Regions from separate parts of the Homo sapiens genome. Here region 2 is linked to region 1. The links come from fine-mapping of genetic effects on gene expression. A gene starts in region 1. The other region holds a variant in brackets. All regions are shown on one strand. Distances are between the middles of the regions. Region 1 holds the start of POLRMT (RNA polymerase mitochondrial). Region 2 has its middle 1.6 kb from the start of EFNA2.

Region 1 (2,872 bases):
CATGTTGGCCAGGCTGGTCTTGAACTCATGACCTCTTGATCCGCCCGCCTCGGCCTCCCAAAGTGCTGGGATTACAGGCGTGAGCCACCGCACCAGGCCTCGGACCCTTGACCTCTTGATCCGCCCACCTTGGCCACCCAAAAGTGCTGGGAGTACAGGCGTGAGCCACCGCACCAGGCCTCGAACCCCCGACCTCTTGATCCGCCCACCTCGGCCACCCAAAAGTGCTGGGATTACAGGCGTGAGCCACCGCACCTGGCCAGGTTTTTTCCCTTTATAAAGGTTCTCCCGCCTCTCCCTTCCCGGCTGCCTAATGGACGCAGACAGGATGTGGGACAGAAGCACCGGCGGGAAGCAAGCACAGGGAAGCTCCCACCTCCCTCCCACACCACCAGCCAGGCCAGGACGAGGGCCTGCCACCGCTGGAGCCTGGGCTGTCCCTCCCAAGTTTCGCAGTCATCCAGTCTCCATTAGGCGCCTACCCCCCAGAGCCAAGCCAGGACAGCTGAGTCAGTTCAGGGTTCACATCCTGGCTCTGCACATGTGGCCTTGGCGGCGGGGCCGGGGGGGGGGTCTCTCCAGACATAATCTTGGGCCTCACCTATGTCCCTGGAAAGTGGGAGCACCTGGTGGGGTTCTGGGGAGGGGGAATTACGAGAGCTCCAGGAAGGAGCCTGCTCAGCAAGGACAGGGCCCATGAGCGGTGCAAGAGATGTTTCAGCAACGCCGTCTGGGCGTGTCCTGGGACCCGAGAGGTGGAGACCGCCCTCAGCCTGTCTCAGAATCTGAGCCTTTGCCTTTTCTCCCGGCAGCAGGGAGCGGACTCTCCTCTCCCGGGCCGCCGTGGGGGTCGCGCTCACCCTCCAGCAGCTCCACGTGGCCCCAGTCCTTCCTGCGGTCTTGGTCTTGCTCCTGGGGGCTGGCGGACGAGCTCCTCCTGGGGCCGCAGACGCCACCGGCGGTCCCTGCGGGAAAGACGAGAGCGGCTGAGCGGGGCCGGGCGTGTGGGCGGGGGCCTCCATAAAGGCAGAAGCCGAAGGGTCGAAGGGCAAAGGAGCCCTAAACGCAGCGGAAACTCTCGGAGCACGGGCTTAAGTTGGAAAGAAACTAAGACAGCGAAGGTGGAAGGGCCCCGCCGCGGCGAACACGGGCGCGGAACCGCCGAGAGAGGGTTCCTCGCACTCGAGGTGCAGCAGGTCAAAGGTTAAGAGCCCTAAACACCACACCTGGGGTCAGGAGGCTGCATAAGAAACCACGAGTCAAAGGTCAGACTGCACGGAGGAGCCTCAGTCGAAAAGCGGGCAAGGGCGAGTGGAAAGCGGGGCCGGGTCGGTGGGCTGCGCACGCCCAGGTGCAAAGAGGCAAAGGTCAAAGCGCCAAAGGCCCCGGCCGCGCGGGGAGGAGCCCACGCCGTGGCCCCCGGGCTGCCTGGCCGTCTCCCTTTGTGTTACCTTCTTTGCCGGGGAGTCCCGGGCGGCCGCAAGGCCGTAGGGCTCGTTTGAGCCCCGCCGCTCCGCGGCCCCAGCAAAGTGCCGACATTACGCACGCCGCTCCAGGCCACCCCACCGGCCCGCGCCTGCGCATGCGCCCGCGCCGCCTGCCGGGAGTTGTGGTTTCATGGTCGACGGAGGCTGCGAAGGGAAACCCCAGCCGGAAGTAGACTCCCAGGATGCAGCGGAGGCGCGAAGGCATGCGCCGGTGGACGCTCTGATTGGTTCCTCCTGCTGTTTTTAAAGGGAGGGGGCGGGACAGAGCTGTTGCCGTGGCAACTGGGAGGCACTCTCAGGCTGTTTTCCCGAGGACCTCAAATCCGGACTTTTTTTCTGTTTTTCTTTCTTTTTTGGTTTTGTTTTGGACGCGTTGTGGCCCAGGCTGGAGTGCAGTGGCGTGATCATAGCTCAGTGCAGCTTCGAACTGCTGGGGTAAAGAGATCCTCGCCCCTCGGCTTCCCAAAGCGCTGGGATTGCAGACGCCGCCACCGTGCCCGGCTTTTTTTTTTTTTTTTTCAAGGCATACTCATCTAATAACGAGGACAGCATCTGCAATTTAGAGATTCCTGTCCGCAACCTTCATTGCTCCAACGACAACTTTTGGGTAAGAGTCATTAGGATGCCGTCTATCATGGAGGAAGCTGAGGCTCAGAGAGGGCCACCAAGTTGCTGGAAGACACAGCACGTGCGACCTCAGGGAGGCTGCAAGGAGAGAAAGCCCCAGTCCGCGAGACTCCCAGCCTCCAGCTTCAGTTTACCCTCCAATCCCCAAGCCCTCAGGGGCAGGAGCCGAATGGAGCGGCAGGCTTGGATTCACCTGCTAAGTGGGGTGAGGTCAAGGGAATGAAATAAACCTCGGAGCCTAGAGCCTGCCCTGGTCTCCGCGTGATCCTGCCTAGGAGGAGCAGGGCGGGAGCTTTAGAATGGAACCTGGAAGGTGTGCCCACCTGTGTCGTTCAGCCGGGGCAGCAGGCCAGAGGCGGGAGCGCCTGCTGTGGGGCAGTAGGCTTGGGAAGGGTGAGAATAGGAATATCTGGGGGTAACTGTGTTCCAGGCTAATATCCCAGTTGCAAAGGGGAGCTGGTTTGGTGGCTCAGGCCTGTCATCCCAGCACTTTGGGAGGCTGAGGCGGGCGGATCACCTAAGGTCAGAGTTCGAGACCAGCTTGGCAAATACGCAAGCATGCCTGGCAACATGGCAAAACCCCGTCTCTAGTAAAAATACAAAAATTATCCGGGGGTGGTGGCGGGCACCTGTAATCCCAGCTACTCGGGAGGCTGAGGCAGGAGAATCGCTTGAACCCGGGAGGCGGAGGTTGCAGTGAGCCAAGATCTCGCCACTGCACTCCAGCCTGGGTGACAGAGCGAGAACCTGTCTCAAAA
Region 2 (2,892 bases), 650 kb after region 1:
GGGTCCATGGCTGGATGGGGGTGGGGATTTTCATGTTACCCACTGGAGAAAGGGATACATTTTTATTTTCAAGGACAGCGACCCAGCCCAGGGGAAACGCCCCTGGCCCCTGGGGCTAAGCGCAGACCCCAGCTCCGTGCTTCGCAGGTGGGGGGCGATGGACAGCGGTGGGGCTCCCGCCCTGAGTGGAGCCTGTGACCTGCCCGGGCCCCAGCGCCCCGTGACCCCTGCCGCCTGATCCTTGCCTGGCTGAGATGGGGCTTCTGAAGGCTGCCGGCACCAGGGCAGGCAGCGCATTGGGTCCAATTTATTCTGTAATGAGAAATTCTCCCCGCATATTTTTAGCTTCCTCCTGGCGTCGCGGCCTTTGAAGGCTGAGGGGCTGCGGGACGCTGATCCCAAGCCCTGTGGCCTGGCCATGTGGGCAGTGGGTGCTGGGCACGGGCTGGACAAGTCCCTTCCTGAGTCTGGGTAGACCCCAGTCCCAGCAGTGCAGAGCAGGGGGCGGGGCCAGACCCCATCAAGCCCTGTACTGGCTCCAGACCAGGGACTGAGGGCGACCCTGGATAACCCCTGACCTTGGCGGACACCTGTTCCCAGAGTGAGCCTGATTTCTGACCCTTGGCTCCACAGGAAGCTTACTCTAGAGTGACCTCCGGCCGCGGCTGCGTCCCAAAGCCGGGACAGCTCCCAGCCCCAGGAGGGAACAGGGCTTCTTGGACCCCCACAGTGGCCCCCCTGCCAGGCAGGGGTTTGCCGGGGCAGCCTCGCCCAGGGCCAGGCCTCGGAGACGCCCTGCCCTCCCCTCCCTTCCCCAGGTCCTTCCTCTAGGAGCGGCCAGCGGGCGCGGGGAGGTTGAATGGGGGACGCACCGCCTTTGTTCCCGTCCCTGCTTGGGCTCTGACCTTGAGAGAGACAAGAACAGAAGGAAAACGGAGCTTCTGCTCAAATCCGTTCAGCGGTGGCGGTGGTGGCGGCTCTCGCCTCGGTGGCCCCTGCATGCAAATGAGTGGCCCTGCCATGCCTGGGTGGAGGTGGTGCCCTTCCAGCTCCCACCTGTGCAGGTCCCAGTCCTGGTTTGAGAAGAGACCCCCTCCTCCCGACCCTGGCCCACCCCTCCTCACCCACGAGATCCCTTGAAGCAGGAGGGGGCTTCTGGTCCCAGGGTAGAAGGAAGCTTCCAGAACTCCCACCTTTGCCAGGTGGCATGCTGGGGCCGGGCACGCCAAGACCCCAGGCTCACGGCCCCTTGTCCTGTGCTTGGGTGCAGCCGCCACACTCTGCTCC[G/A]AAAGTGCTCACCTCCGGGAGTGGCCGTCCCCCTCCCTAAAAGAGCCCCCCACCAGACGGAGCCGCCCGGGAAGCTTCTCCAGCCTGTCTGGGCTACAGAGCCTTGTGTGGCTAGAACCCAAGGCCCTCACTCCAGGGGTGCTGAGAGAGCCTGTCCAGAGGGCCTGCCTCAGCCACCACCTGGGACAGGTTCACGCCCTCCACTGAAGAGACACCCGGCCAGCCCTGGGCCTTCGACCTGGGACGTCTGTAGTGGGGTCAGGGGATGAGACCTGGAGCTCAGAACAGACGGGCTGAGCTCCCTGGAGGAGAGAGAACTGAGAACCTTGTCCTGGCAGGGACGCTAGAGCACTGGGTGGGACAGACCTTTCTGGAAGAGCAAGATTTTAACAGGAAGAAAAAGTGGAAGGACTTCCCAGCAGGACCCAGCCTGAACAAAGGTCAGGTGGTGTGGCCCGCGTGGCCCGCTGGGGAATCGGGGGAGGAGGGCACGCAGGAGACACAGGACAGAGCCCACCACGTCTCAGAGCTGTGGGACGGTGGTGGGTCCGGTCCCCACCCCACCTTGCTGGGGCACAGGTTAGCTTGCCCATCTCTGGGTTCACGGTCCCTGCCAGGAGTTTGGGTAATGCCTCACACAGGGACCTTCGGGTCCAAGGGCTGTTGGTGCTTGCCCTGCAGTTCCCTCTCCTGCACTGGGCCTGGTGAATGACACTAATTCAGAGACGTACAACACGATCTGGGCATCGCCAGCAAAGTCCAGCCAGCGTTTGATGACAGCCTACCCTCCACAAGCTCAGAGTCTGGTGAGGGAGGCTGTGGCATGAATAAGGGCAAAAACAGAGGGCAGGCCAGGTGCAGTGGCTCACGCCTGTAATCCTAGCACTTTGGGAAGCCCAGGTGGGAAGATCGCCTGAGCCCAGGAGTTCAAGACCAGCGTGGCCAACATGGCCAGACACTGTCTCTATAGATTGGAAAAAAGACAAAGCAGAGGCCAGGCCCCCAGTTCCCCACCTGTGTCAGCCTACCAGGAGGAGAAATCACTCGGCGTTCCCTGAACAGATCAGACCCCGGGTCTTTGCACAAGCTGTGCCCCCGGGCAGCGGCCCTCCCCTGCCTGCAGGATTCGTGCGTGGAGACTGATTTGCTGTCGGCCGGGGCTTCACTCTGGGCTTCTTGGATCCCATCCCCAGCTGCTCACACTCCACATCGGTCCACCTACTATGCTCCCGGCACCCTTAGGGCTGAGGTGTAGGGACTTACTCCATCCCCAGGGAACAGCGTGGGTCCGGAGAGGCGACTCCCAGGAGGGCCCCAGGGAGGTCGCAGCCCGAGCAGCTTTGGACTTTGGCCAGCGCCCCTCTGAAACTCTGCCCCGGCCCCCGCAGGGAGACTGGAGTTGGCCGAGCCCGATTTGGGACGCGTGCGTCGGGGTTGGTGAGGCTGCGGATAGCGCTGGAACCGGGCAGGTGAGAGGCCCGGGACCCAGGGCCGGGCCGGGTGGAGCGCGTGGGGGCGCGGGAGGCAGGGTGCGCCCCCGCCCCTCGGAGACCCCAGGCCGGGCCACGCGGATGCCGGCGGGGGGCGCGCAGAATCGGGGTCGCT

What was found.
Region 2: its variant is fine-mapped to the expression of POLRMT in fibroblasts (GTEx, PIP above 0.99).

What each region holds. Positions count from the first base shown.
Region 1 is chr19:631,974-634,845 of GRCh38, forward strand. It overlaps POLRMT (RNA polymerase mitochondrial), which reads right to left and starts at 1,564. Exons shown (of 21, transcript NM_005035.4): 1 at 1,452-1,564; 2 at 861-965. The coding sequence starts at 1,539. It overlaps LOC105372234 (a long non-coding RNA gene), which reads left to right and starts at 1,491. Exons shown (of 2, transcript XR_936226.2): 1 at 1,491-1,922; 2 at 2,011-2,872. RefSeq lists silencers at 1,348-1,507, 1,518-1,777.
Region 2 is chr19:1,282,830-1,285,721 of GRCh38, forward strand. It overlaps a transcript of EFNA2 not described here. Among named protein-coding and RNA genes, the nearest start is that of EFNA2, 1.6 kb to the right of the region's middle. RefSeq lists enhancers at 1-604, 2,128-2,628, 2,629-2,892. The variant G/A (reference allele first, on the strand shown) is at 1,288.